Linked DNA regions of Homo sapiens: region 2 is linked to region 1. The links come from fine-mapping of genetic effects on gene expression. A gene starts in region 1. The other region holds a variant in brackets. All regions are shown on one strand. Distances are between the middles of the regions.

The links. PIP is the estimated chance that this variant, and not a neighbour inherited with it, causes the effect.
Region 2: its variant is the best candidate, but not a certain one, in a credible set for the expression of LIN7A in neural progenitor cells (Aygun 2021, PIP 0.85).

The regions. Positions count from the first base shown.
Region 1 is chr12:80,935,064-80,940,452 of GRCh38, reverse strand. It overlaps LIN7A (lin-7 cell polarity scaffold A), which reads left to right and starts at 2,519. Exons shown (of 6, transcript NM_004664.4): 1 at 2,519-2,812. The coding sequence starts at 2,731. It overlaps MIR618 (microRNA 618), which reads left to right and starts at 4,620; the gene lies at 4,620-4,717. RefSeq lists a silencer at 3,182-3,391.
Region 2 is chr12:81,093,754-81,099,142 of GRCh38, reverse strand. All of the region lies in intron 1 of ACSS3 (acyl-CoA synthetase short chain family member 3), which reads right to left. ACSS3-AS1 (ACSS3 antisense RNA 1) reads left to right here. Exons shown (of 5, transcript XR_007063390.1): 5 at 4,411-5,345. Among named protein-coding and RNA genes, the nearest start is that of ACSS3, 18 kb to the right of the region's middle. RefSeq lists an enhancer at 3,138-3,639. The variant T/C (reference allele first, on the strand shown) is at 3,208.

The DNA of each region.
Region 1 (5,389 bases):
CACAGCAAAGCAACTGGCATGTGACTAGATCAAGTATATCCCTGCATGTCTCAAAACGAAATTCACAAATATTATTGGAGAGATAGTATTTATTCATAAAAACAAATTCTAATGGATAATGAATTTTTATTAATTTTCTACACCTGTGTAGACATAAGCTAAAGGGAATGAACTTTCCACTACTAAAAATAATAACAGATGAATTTATGGTGATTTATGCTTCCTTTTAATTTCTCTTTTAATCTTGATTTAAAAACAACAACAACCCTACAGAGTCAACACAGAGAAAGAATGACAGAGCAAATTTCAAATAGGAAGCTCAAGGCAGAAGTCCAGAAATATGCTATGAAATGTTTAGTCCTGAGGATGCATTAGGAAACAAAAAGACAAAGAAAACTCTACCTTCACTGACACCACAATCAGGGATTTGTGTTGGAATGGGTACAATTTATGACTTTTGGGCTGATGAATCAAGCTGCTTAAATACATATTCCCTAATAAAGGATGTTGTAAAATAACTACATTAGAAGTCAAGGGATTTGTATGTTCTTTTATCCTCAGTTACCGAGTGAGGTTTAATAACTTTGTGCAAAAGCTTGTAACACACTCTGGTATCATTGCGCTCATCTCAACTTCTTTCTGTTGCTTAATTCAGGGCATGTGAATAACGGTAAAAAACCAAAGTTGTTTTTGCAACCTCTGGCCACCGAGGGCACTTCCTTTTAATAGTGCTTAGAGTACTGCACAGAAGCTTATGGTTTGCTCACTGTCTCCCAAGCAAGACTGGGCAGAAAGGGGGCCATCTCATTAATCTTTGCATGGTTAGCACCTAGCACAGAGCTTACCACACGGTTCCAGGGGATGTATGCTTGTATAAATAAATTTGTATATTCTTTACTGTTTTCAAAGCACAGTCACATGTATGACTCCATTAGACCCTCATAAAACTCTGTGAGATTGCAAGGTAGAATTAGTTTCCTCATATGACAGATCTCTGTGACATTGAATGATATTATTTCCATTGTATGACAGAGGAGGAAACAGGATCAGTGAGAGATTGTGTGACTTCCGAAGAGTACATGACTAAGACTCAAATGTCAAGATCAGCATTCTTTCTTAAATACTAAATAAAAATAAACATATCGAACTACTATTTTAGGTTTGTTCTTAGGGTCTGTTAAGTCTATATATGGCCAATCATCTTTGGCTTTCCCACATTGGTGAAATGTTGTTTTTTAAAATTCAATTGTAGACTATAAAATGAAAAAGACCTTCAGAAATCCTATCTGTAATCAGAAGAAAATGGCATCAATTATATGCAAATATTTTGCTATAAAACAGTATCTGCCTTTTAGAGTTTATTGTTAGCCCAAACAATTCAGCTCTGTCACAGGAAACAAGATGGAGGCAGCTTTGTCATTTCCAATCCTGCACCCACAGTCACCCCTATTCAGCTTATAGAAGGTTTCTTTATGTTTCTTGATTTCGTAGTCAGGAAATGAATCCCTACTATGACAAGATAGTGAAAGTAGCCTTTTTATTGGGGCGAAGAGGTCACAGCCAGTATTTGAAGGCTCTCGTAATTTAATCCTGATCAACTGACTCTAAAGTCAGGTTTTTAATAACACCATCTCCCACTAGATTACAGGCTACAGGAAGTCGGAGACTAAATTGAACTCCTAAATCAAGGCGTGGCACAAGGCAATGTAACTCTTCTATCTCAATTCCTGGCATATATGTTAATCAATCGATAAGTGGCATCTCTGAACCACTGGTTAGAAATCAACATGAAAAGTGCTAGGTACATATTTTTCAAACGTAGTCATAGACAACCAAAATCAGTTTGGACATTAAGAGCAAAGTTTTTGTTGCTGGGTGGGTGAGGGGGAGTGGGGCATGTTTACAGGATGTGGTATGTAAAAAATTCGGAGAAAATCTGAACACTGTACTTGTTTCTAAGCTACATTTACTGAATTGGTAATGTATTAACAGTGGCTTGAAAAAGAAAAACTTAGCGATAGAAACTTACCTACACGTTTTTTATTTTGAAGCACTTTTAAGAGGTTTGCCTTTTTTTTTTTTTTTCTCCAGGCAATATACTCAGGTCCTAAATGAACATCTACTGATGGAACGCTGGCCTTTAGTCAGTTATCTTTATATGCCGTTATAGGTCAACATTCCGAAAAACTTCAACAGAAATTAACTGCAAATGTAATTACATCCCAAACATTTCTGATAATGGAAGCATTTTCTCTCTAAAGGGGATGGGATTATTGGATTGGCAATTTCTCTTAATCTGAGAAAACTCATCTCCCACTCCCTTCCCCATATCCCCTTTCCATCCTCTCTCTTCCCCTTATACACACACGCACCCGCATGCACACACGTATATTCTGACCATTTTATTAGAGTGGAAAGTTGAAAGGAAGCAACCCGCCAGCTACACCCACCCAGCGCTCCTGGGGGTGGAATAGCAAAGTTCTAGGGCAGAGCCTTCCCTCCCAGAGCCCGGCGATGCAGTCGCTCTCGGATACCTGCTCAGCTCCGCACCGCAACTGAAGATCTGCCGCCGCGGAACAGTTGCGTCTCCATCTGGCTACCAACCCACCCAAGCTTTCTTCTCCACCACCACCACCTTCCTTCCTTCCCCCTCCTCCCCCTCCTTTCCGTCTTCCCTCTCCACCCCCGCCCCCAATCTCCTCCTTTTTTTCTCACTACGAGCGGTTGCTGATGCTGAAGCCGAGCGTCACTTCGGCTCCCACGGCAGACATGGCGACATTGACAGTGGTCCAGCCGCTCACCCTGGACAGAGGTAAGGGAGCGGCTCGCTCGCCAGGCCACCGCGTCCCCTCTCCCCTCCTCCCTTCCCCGCCTGCCAATTCCCAACGGGACATGGGACGCGCTCAGGCAGGAGGAGAAGGGGAACGAGGACGAGCCAGGAAGGCGTTCGCGCCGAGAACAGAACACTTTCTTCCCCTTTCTCTCCCCGCTACGTTCCCGCTGCCCCTTCCCACTGTACTCGCCCCGCCGAGGGGACGCCTCCTTCTGGCTCTGGGGTCCCCGCTGCCACTCCCAGCCCCTCGCCGGGTCGTCTCCGGTCCTCTGGCTTTGTTGGAGCCGCTGCGCGGGGACGGCTATAGGCGCCAGGGGCTCGGGGTTGGAGAGGGGCAGAGAGCAAGCTCGCCCGGCCAGAGCCCAGAGGAGACCGGCGAGGGAGCCGCCTGTCAGCTTGCTTGGCGCAGGGGCCCGGGAGGAAGGAAGTTTGTCCAGGCGCCGGAGGGCGAGGGTCGGTCCAACTGCTGGAGTCCCGGCGGCCACTCGGGGGGCGGGCTGGGCGCACCCCTGGGCTGCCGGGCGCACAGTGGCGGGGCTGCAGCAGGCAGGGAGCTGCCCTCTGCCGAAAGGGCAAGGCAGAGCGCGGGGAGCCGAGCCCCAGCAGCCGAGATCGGCTCTCCGCGGCTTCGAGATCGAAAGCGGCGAGGGTCGCGTCTGCTCCCGCCGCCGGCAGCTCCCGGTCGATAGCAACTCTCGGCTTCTCCCGCGCCAGCCTCTCGTGTCCTCTCCCAGCTCGGTGCCACCGCGGCGCCCAGGCTGCGGAAGGCGCGGGGACAAAGCGCAGGTCGGGTTAAAATTCAACTTCTGACCTGCCACCCAGTGAGTCCTGCTCTCTGACTTGAACGGGGAAAGTGTTCGCTTCCTCCCCAGGACGCCCTCACAAGCTCAGGGATGGAGTCCTCCGCTGCGATCGGGGCCTCACTGGTGCACCCCTGTGGGGTTATACCTGTCCCTGAGTGTGTGGGTTTCCTTCCTGGCTCCAGCGTCCAGTGATGAAGGCGCTCGAGTCCTACGGCTCTGCAGAGGAGGACACCCTCTAGTCCCTCTCCGCAGCCGCCGGATTTAGGACCCTGGGCGGCCATTTGGAAATGGTGTACTCAGAAGAAAATGATTTAGTCCGATGTACCTCTAAAAATTTTCTTTCTAGAGGATTAAACTGAACGATGGGCAAGGCAAAAGAACATCCTGCTGAGAGTACAGTAACAAAGCCAGTGAACTCAGTTTGAGGTTTTTAATTTGGAGAGACTGTGGGTGACTTTAACGCAATCTGTTGGCGCCAGAACAGATGTTCTGTGGTGCCCATAGCAACCTTTCTTAGGGTAAGAGTTGAAAAATAAAATGTAATTGATTTTATATTAGAAAATGTTGATTTGTAAGCTGGCAAAATTAATAACAGTAGTTAAAGACCTCAGAAATCCATTGTATAATCCATGATTTTACCCACAATATCATCATCTGCACTAAGCAGGATAAATCCATTGCCGGTAAGAACCAAACAGATGGCAAGCTATCAGAAACTATGAGCTTCCCAAGTATTTATGTTTTAATGTAATGAGCTCTTATATTGTCCCATTACAAAATCACAGTCGTTAAACATCCCAAATCAAGTGACTATGTTAGGAGCAAAAACTCCAAGAAGATTGCATACCTGGGTCATTTTATATACTACCACTACTACTAATAATACAAATATTTCAATGTTGGGTTTTACCTTAGCCCTTAGATGCCTCAGTCGGTTGATGAGAGGAGGTGCTAATCGGACTAAGATTTATTTTTAAAGTTTGCTCTTGTTCACAGCCAAACTCTACTTGTCCTTCTGAGTGTAATTACGTACATGCAGTAGCTCAGGAGACAAGCAGGTTTACCCTGTGGATGAGTCTGAAAAAATTCATCAGCAGCTCATGGAAAATCTATAACCAAGAGATGATGGGTTATTGGCATCACCACTGAGCATAAAGTCAATATATATAAATATTGTTCTCCGTATCTTATTCAAATATGATTAATTACTTTCATTATTAAACTGATGAAGGAAAAGGTTCTAAAAATTTCCCTTCAAAAAAGGTGCATTTTTAAAGAGGCAACCCAGTATTACATATCTGGGTCCTAGCTGCAACTCTGATACTCACTCTGCATACATCAGCCTCTCTGGACATCAGATTCTCTCTGTGCCACATCAGGAGTTTGAATTAGATGATTCTAACACTGTGCAGCTTTAGCAGTCTATAATTCAATTAATTAGAGTTAGGACTCAGTTTTTGGTCACCTACTGGGAGATTTTCCAGATCACCTCTCTCCCAGGCTGCTTTGGTACCCTTTGATGCGCTCTAAATTGACTTGCTGCTTTGGCCCCATTAAAGCATTTATCACACTCTGTTGCATTTGTCTATCCCTATTGGATAGAACTCCGTGAGGGAAGAGACCATTTCTAAATTCATCTTTGAATTCTCAGTGTCTGCTATAGTCCCTGACTCACAGTACAATAAAAAAATAATGTTAAGTTGGTGTAAGTAAACTCAGGATAGCAGTAACTTAAGCAATGTTAAAATATAGT
Region 2 (5,389 bases), 160 kb before region 1:
AGGTGAATATATAATCTTTATAAAAAAATTCATTAACTCATAAGAAGACTACAACAGATTAGAATCCCAAATATTAACTATAATAATTTTTCTATTCAAAAGTGTTTCTATTTAATACATTTCATAATAATTTTCTATTGATTGGACCAGAGACTGTGAAGGAAGGGGAAACATTATAACTGGGAACATGTTCTCCACTCTCAAAACGAAGACTGGTTTGCAATAACTATGATAAGATGCAAAATGTGGCAAATTTCCTGACAGAGGTACAAACTAAGCATGATGAAAGCACATAATAAGAAAGAGATTAATTCTAAACTAGGGAATGTGGTAAGGAGCTGATGGATGTGAAAAGGAATGTAGTACAATGTTAAGGCCTGAGCTTTGAGGCCAACAGACTAGAGTTCGAATCTTAGCCATGTCATTTGCTAGTTATTTAAATGACTGCAGACAAATTAACATGTTTAAGACTTTCTTTTTTCATCTATAAACCTTAGGGAAAAATTTTAAAGAATTGTATCAAGACAATGCTATGAGCATTTAACACAAATTAACTCACTTAATCTTCATGAGGACTCTGTGAGGTAAATACAGTAGGTCTTCATTTAACATCATCAATAGGATTTTGGAAATGGAGACTTTAAGCAAAATGACATACAAGGAAACTAATTTCACCACAGGCTAATTGATATAAACAAGTGTTAAGTTCCTAGGGCATATTTCTGGTCACAAAAACATCATCAAATTTCTAAATAAGGACCCAAAACACTTCTAATAGTAAACACTGAAATAAATATGAGCTATCCATACATTTAAAAAAGATAAATAACAACCACTAAGAGCATTATTTACCCAATTATTCAGCTCAGGGTTGTGGGCGGCTGGAGCCTATCTCAGCAACTCAGGGGACAGGGCAGGAACCAGCCCCAGACAGGACACCATCCTATCGCAGGGCACAGTCTCACACACACACACACACACACACACACACTCTCTCTCTCTCTCTCTCTCTCATACTGGGACCATTTAGATATGCCAATTCACCTTATGTGCACATCTTTAGGATGTGAAAGGAAACCAGAGTACCCGGAATAATCCCACCCATACATGGGTAGAACATGCAAACAACACACACAGACAGTGGCGCTGCCCAAGAATTGTTCTTTTTTTTTTCCACTTCAATATTACAACAAAACAAAGTTGAACAAAATGCCGTTATTCAAGGACCTACTACATCCAATAATCCTCATTTTACATATGAGGAAACTGAGGTAGAGACAAGTTTCCTACCTGAGGTCCACACACAATGAGTGACACACTGGTATTAGTGTTAGTTGGGCTCTGAGTCTCAACTATTCTGTGTTAATGTGTTAATGTGAGAATGTTCATGCCTTCCACGATCGTAATTTTATACACATTTCATTAGCTCCTTTCAATAACCACATCAGACAATTACTATTATTACACACATTAACAGATGAGCAGACTGGCTAAAGTGAGTTAGGAGGGCATAGCTCTATGGTCACAGGTAGAATGGGCAGGAGCAGGACACAAGTGGAGGGTGATCATTTATAGTGTTTTGAAACAATGAAGTGTGTTGTGATAACAAAGATGGAAGCAGGGAGGTGTTTGAGAAATATGGAATACTGTAAAGGAAAATTTTAGAGGCAAACAGGAAAAGAGTAAGGAAAACGAATACAAAAGAAACCAAAGTTTTAGGGCCGGGGTCAGCAAACTACAACTCACATGTCAAACTGGTCCACTATGTGTTTGTGCAAAGAAAACATTATTGGAACATATAACTGATTTATGTGTATTCTCTGTGGCTGTTCTTGCTCTACAACAGCAGAACTGAGAGATTGCAATGGAACTGGTCTGGCCTGCAAAGCCAAAAATATTCAATCTGGTCCTGAAAAGAAAAGCATTCCCACTCCCTTCTCTAGAGCAGCTCTGTCTAGTAATTTCTGTGACAATGGAAATGTTCTATGTCTCTGCTGCTCAGTAGGGTAACGACTAGCCACATGTGTCTAACTAAATTTAAATTTAAATTAACTAAAATACAATAAAATTTAAAATTTAGTTTCTCCACCACAGTAGCCATCATATGAGTGCTCAATAGCCACACTTGGCTAATGCAACTGAGAAACTGATTTTTAAAGTTTAATTAAATTAAACAACTTTAAATTTCTACCATAAAGACACATGTACACATATGTTCACTGCAGCACTTTTCACAATAGAAAAGACTTGGAACCAACCCAAATGTCCATCAGTGATAGACTGGATAAAGAAAATGTGGCACATATACACCATGGAATACCATGCAGCCATAAAAAAGGATGAGTTCATGTCCTTTGCAGGGACATGGATGAAGCTGGAAACCATCATTCTCAGCAACTAACACAGGAACAGAAAACCAAACACCACATGTTCTCACTCATAAGTGGAAGTAGAACAATGAGAACATATGGGCACAGGGAGGGGAACATCACGCACTGGGGCCTGTCAGGGGGTGGGGGGCAAGGGGAGGGATAGCGTTAGGAGAAATACCTAATGTAGATGACCGGTTGATCGGTGCAGCAAACCACATGGCACATGTATACCTATGTAACAAGCCTGCATTTTCTGTGCATGTATCCCAGAACTTAAAGTATAATAATAACAAAAGAAGAAAAAGAAAATGGTACAAGTGCATGTCCGCTTTTAAGTATCCATGTTTTTTTGTGTACTTTTGTGTCCTCCCAGACTCTCTGCTTTCTGTAGGCAGGGACCACATGCTAGTTCATTAATGGCACACAACAAATGCTCAATGATTATTTTAAAATAAAAGCTTGTAAGTGTGAATAAATGTGAAATGTAATATACTCTCCTGACACATTCTCCTTACAAATTCTCTCCTGACACTTTCTCTTCTGACAAATAATAAAAAGACTCTTATAAGGTAAATAGTCAGTGCTCAGCAAAAACAATGACTAGCTCAAAAGACTACTGTTGCACAGAAACAGAGCAGGCTTTAAGTATTTTTAAGAGGGCAACATTTTGCTTTATTCACACAGTGATATCCCATCTGAATTACAGATACTTGGCCTTTGGGAAGTATCAACTGACTGTTCCAGGAAACTCTCCAAATTGGGTAATTGCTTACTTGGAACAGAATAATAGCCTTATGTTAATTTACCACTAGGGATATTGTTTTTGTGAAAGTAC[T/C]TGGAAAGCACATCTCTCCATAGCACAGATAATTATTTTAACAGAGAAACCTGATGTAAAGACAGAGGCATTCCTTAGTCCCACCGATCCTTCCTACATGAGTATGTATACTCAGAATCTGGCCCCATCACACCATCTCTAGCCAGATTGTCCCATCTCGACATGAAAGGACAACATAGACATCTTCCGCCTTGCCAGATCATCTCGGATTAAAGCTAGGTGAATTGCCAGTGGTGAGAAATGCAGCCCACAGGAAAAAGAATAGAAAGAAAAGCTTTCAGGAAATCAATGCCTGTTATCTGAACTGAATCCACTGTCAGTGAAAAGACATGAATGAATGATCTTAAAGATTCTCCGGTTGTGAGTCATGCCTGACAGTAAATTCAAAGACGTTAAGGATACATTTTATCTTGTTTATTTGTATTCTAGAGGAAAATGCAGGAAAAACCAATAAGTTAAGTAAAAGGACATAGGATTTGGTTTAATCTAAAAAGGTAGAAAATGTAAAATGATAATTAGATTAATATTAAGGTTCAAAGTAAAAGATAAAAACATTTAGGTTTCAAAGCATAAGTATATTAAATTCAAATACAGTGCTAATAACATAAACTTAAAAGTAGAGTTTTTAAAGGAAAGCATGCTTCATCAGTCAGTCCTTTTCATAACACTTTAGGGACTCTCTTAGGAACAGTGGTCCCCAGTCAACCAATTCAGAAATGTCATGATGAGCTGGCAAAGAACCAAACTCCAAATGAGAGCAGGTTCCTAGAAACCAGACCTACAATCCAGAATGCCCCCAGGGCCACAAGTGGGTAACTTTGAAGAAACCTCAGAGTTATCCAGAGAACCAGGAGGGAGTGGAATGGAGGGTGTACTCTGCCTAATGACAGCTAGTATTTGTTGGAAAAAACAGAAGCATGTATTCCTGATGATAACAATAATGAAATGATGAACAAAGAAGGAAATGAGGAGAAGGAGAAGAAAGAGAAAGAGCAGCAGCAGCACGATGCAGGGGAGGAGGACCCCAACTAGCTGACCTGGTGTTAATGTTGCTCTGGTTAAGGAGAAATGGGAGGAAGACAGGAGAGCAATAGACAAGGATTGAAATTAATGTTTTCTAAACCTGAGAACTTTAGGACTATACATTTTTTCATTTTTTCATATTACATCTTTATCTTAACTATCCATTTCTTTCTCTTTCAGCTTATAACTCATGCAAAACAACATGCTGCAATGTTCTGATGAAATGCTCCTCTACAGTCGAGGCTCCCAGAAGGCAGAGAGCATATTCATTAACTCATTCTGCTCAACACTTAGCTCATGTCCATGGAGAGATGTTGAATATGAGCTCCTATTAAAAAGAGGGAATACAATCAATCATTTGAGAATGTCCAAAAAGAACTTTTCCTTTCCATCGAGCCTTACAAATTATTCTAAGATTGTTTCTGTAAATACCATGTAATTGGGAGAGATACACAGGGAGCGTCAATTGTGTCTGTAATGTTTTACTGCTTATGATAAAAAGATCTGAAACTAATGTGACAAAATACTAAGATTTCACAGAATTCAGTGTTGAGTGTCCTCTAAGTTATTATCTTTATTCTTCAAATATTTCATAAGGAAAAAGATGGTGGGAACTTACAATATTTATTATTTTTTTGGAGAATGGCTGGATAATATACATTGAAATCTGCTAAGAATTTACCAGAAGGAAGGAAAGAGAAACACACACACACACACACACACACACAGAGAGAGAGACAGAGAGAGAGAGAGAGGAAAAAAAAATATATCCTTGGAATGCCAAGCCCAAAGATGCAAGTCTATCTGCCGATTTATAAAAGCAAATAAAGAGAAACCATCTAAATGCCAATATGAAAGGATTAGGAAATATTTATATATTCACCCAATATGTTAAATATTCTGTATACATTAAAAATAATGAATTAGAAAAATGGAAAAAACACTTCTTACAAGTGAAAAAAAATGAGCTACCAAATAATATGGATGGATAGTACAATTCCATTTCTCTATAAGAACAGAAATAGAGATCCAGGGAGTCAAACAGATTGACAGACATAGATTCTTGATTTTTTAAAGGCATAACATCTACACATAAAATATAAATAAATAAGTGCAAAAACTGGTGAATCTGAATAAGACCTATAGCTTAGTTCATTGC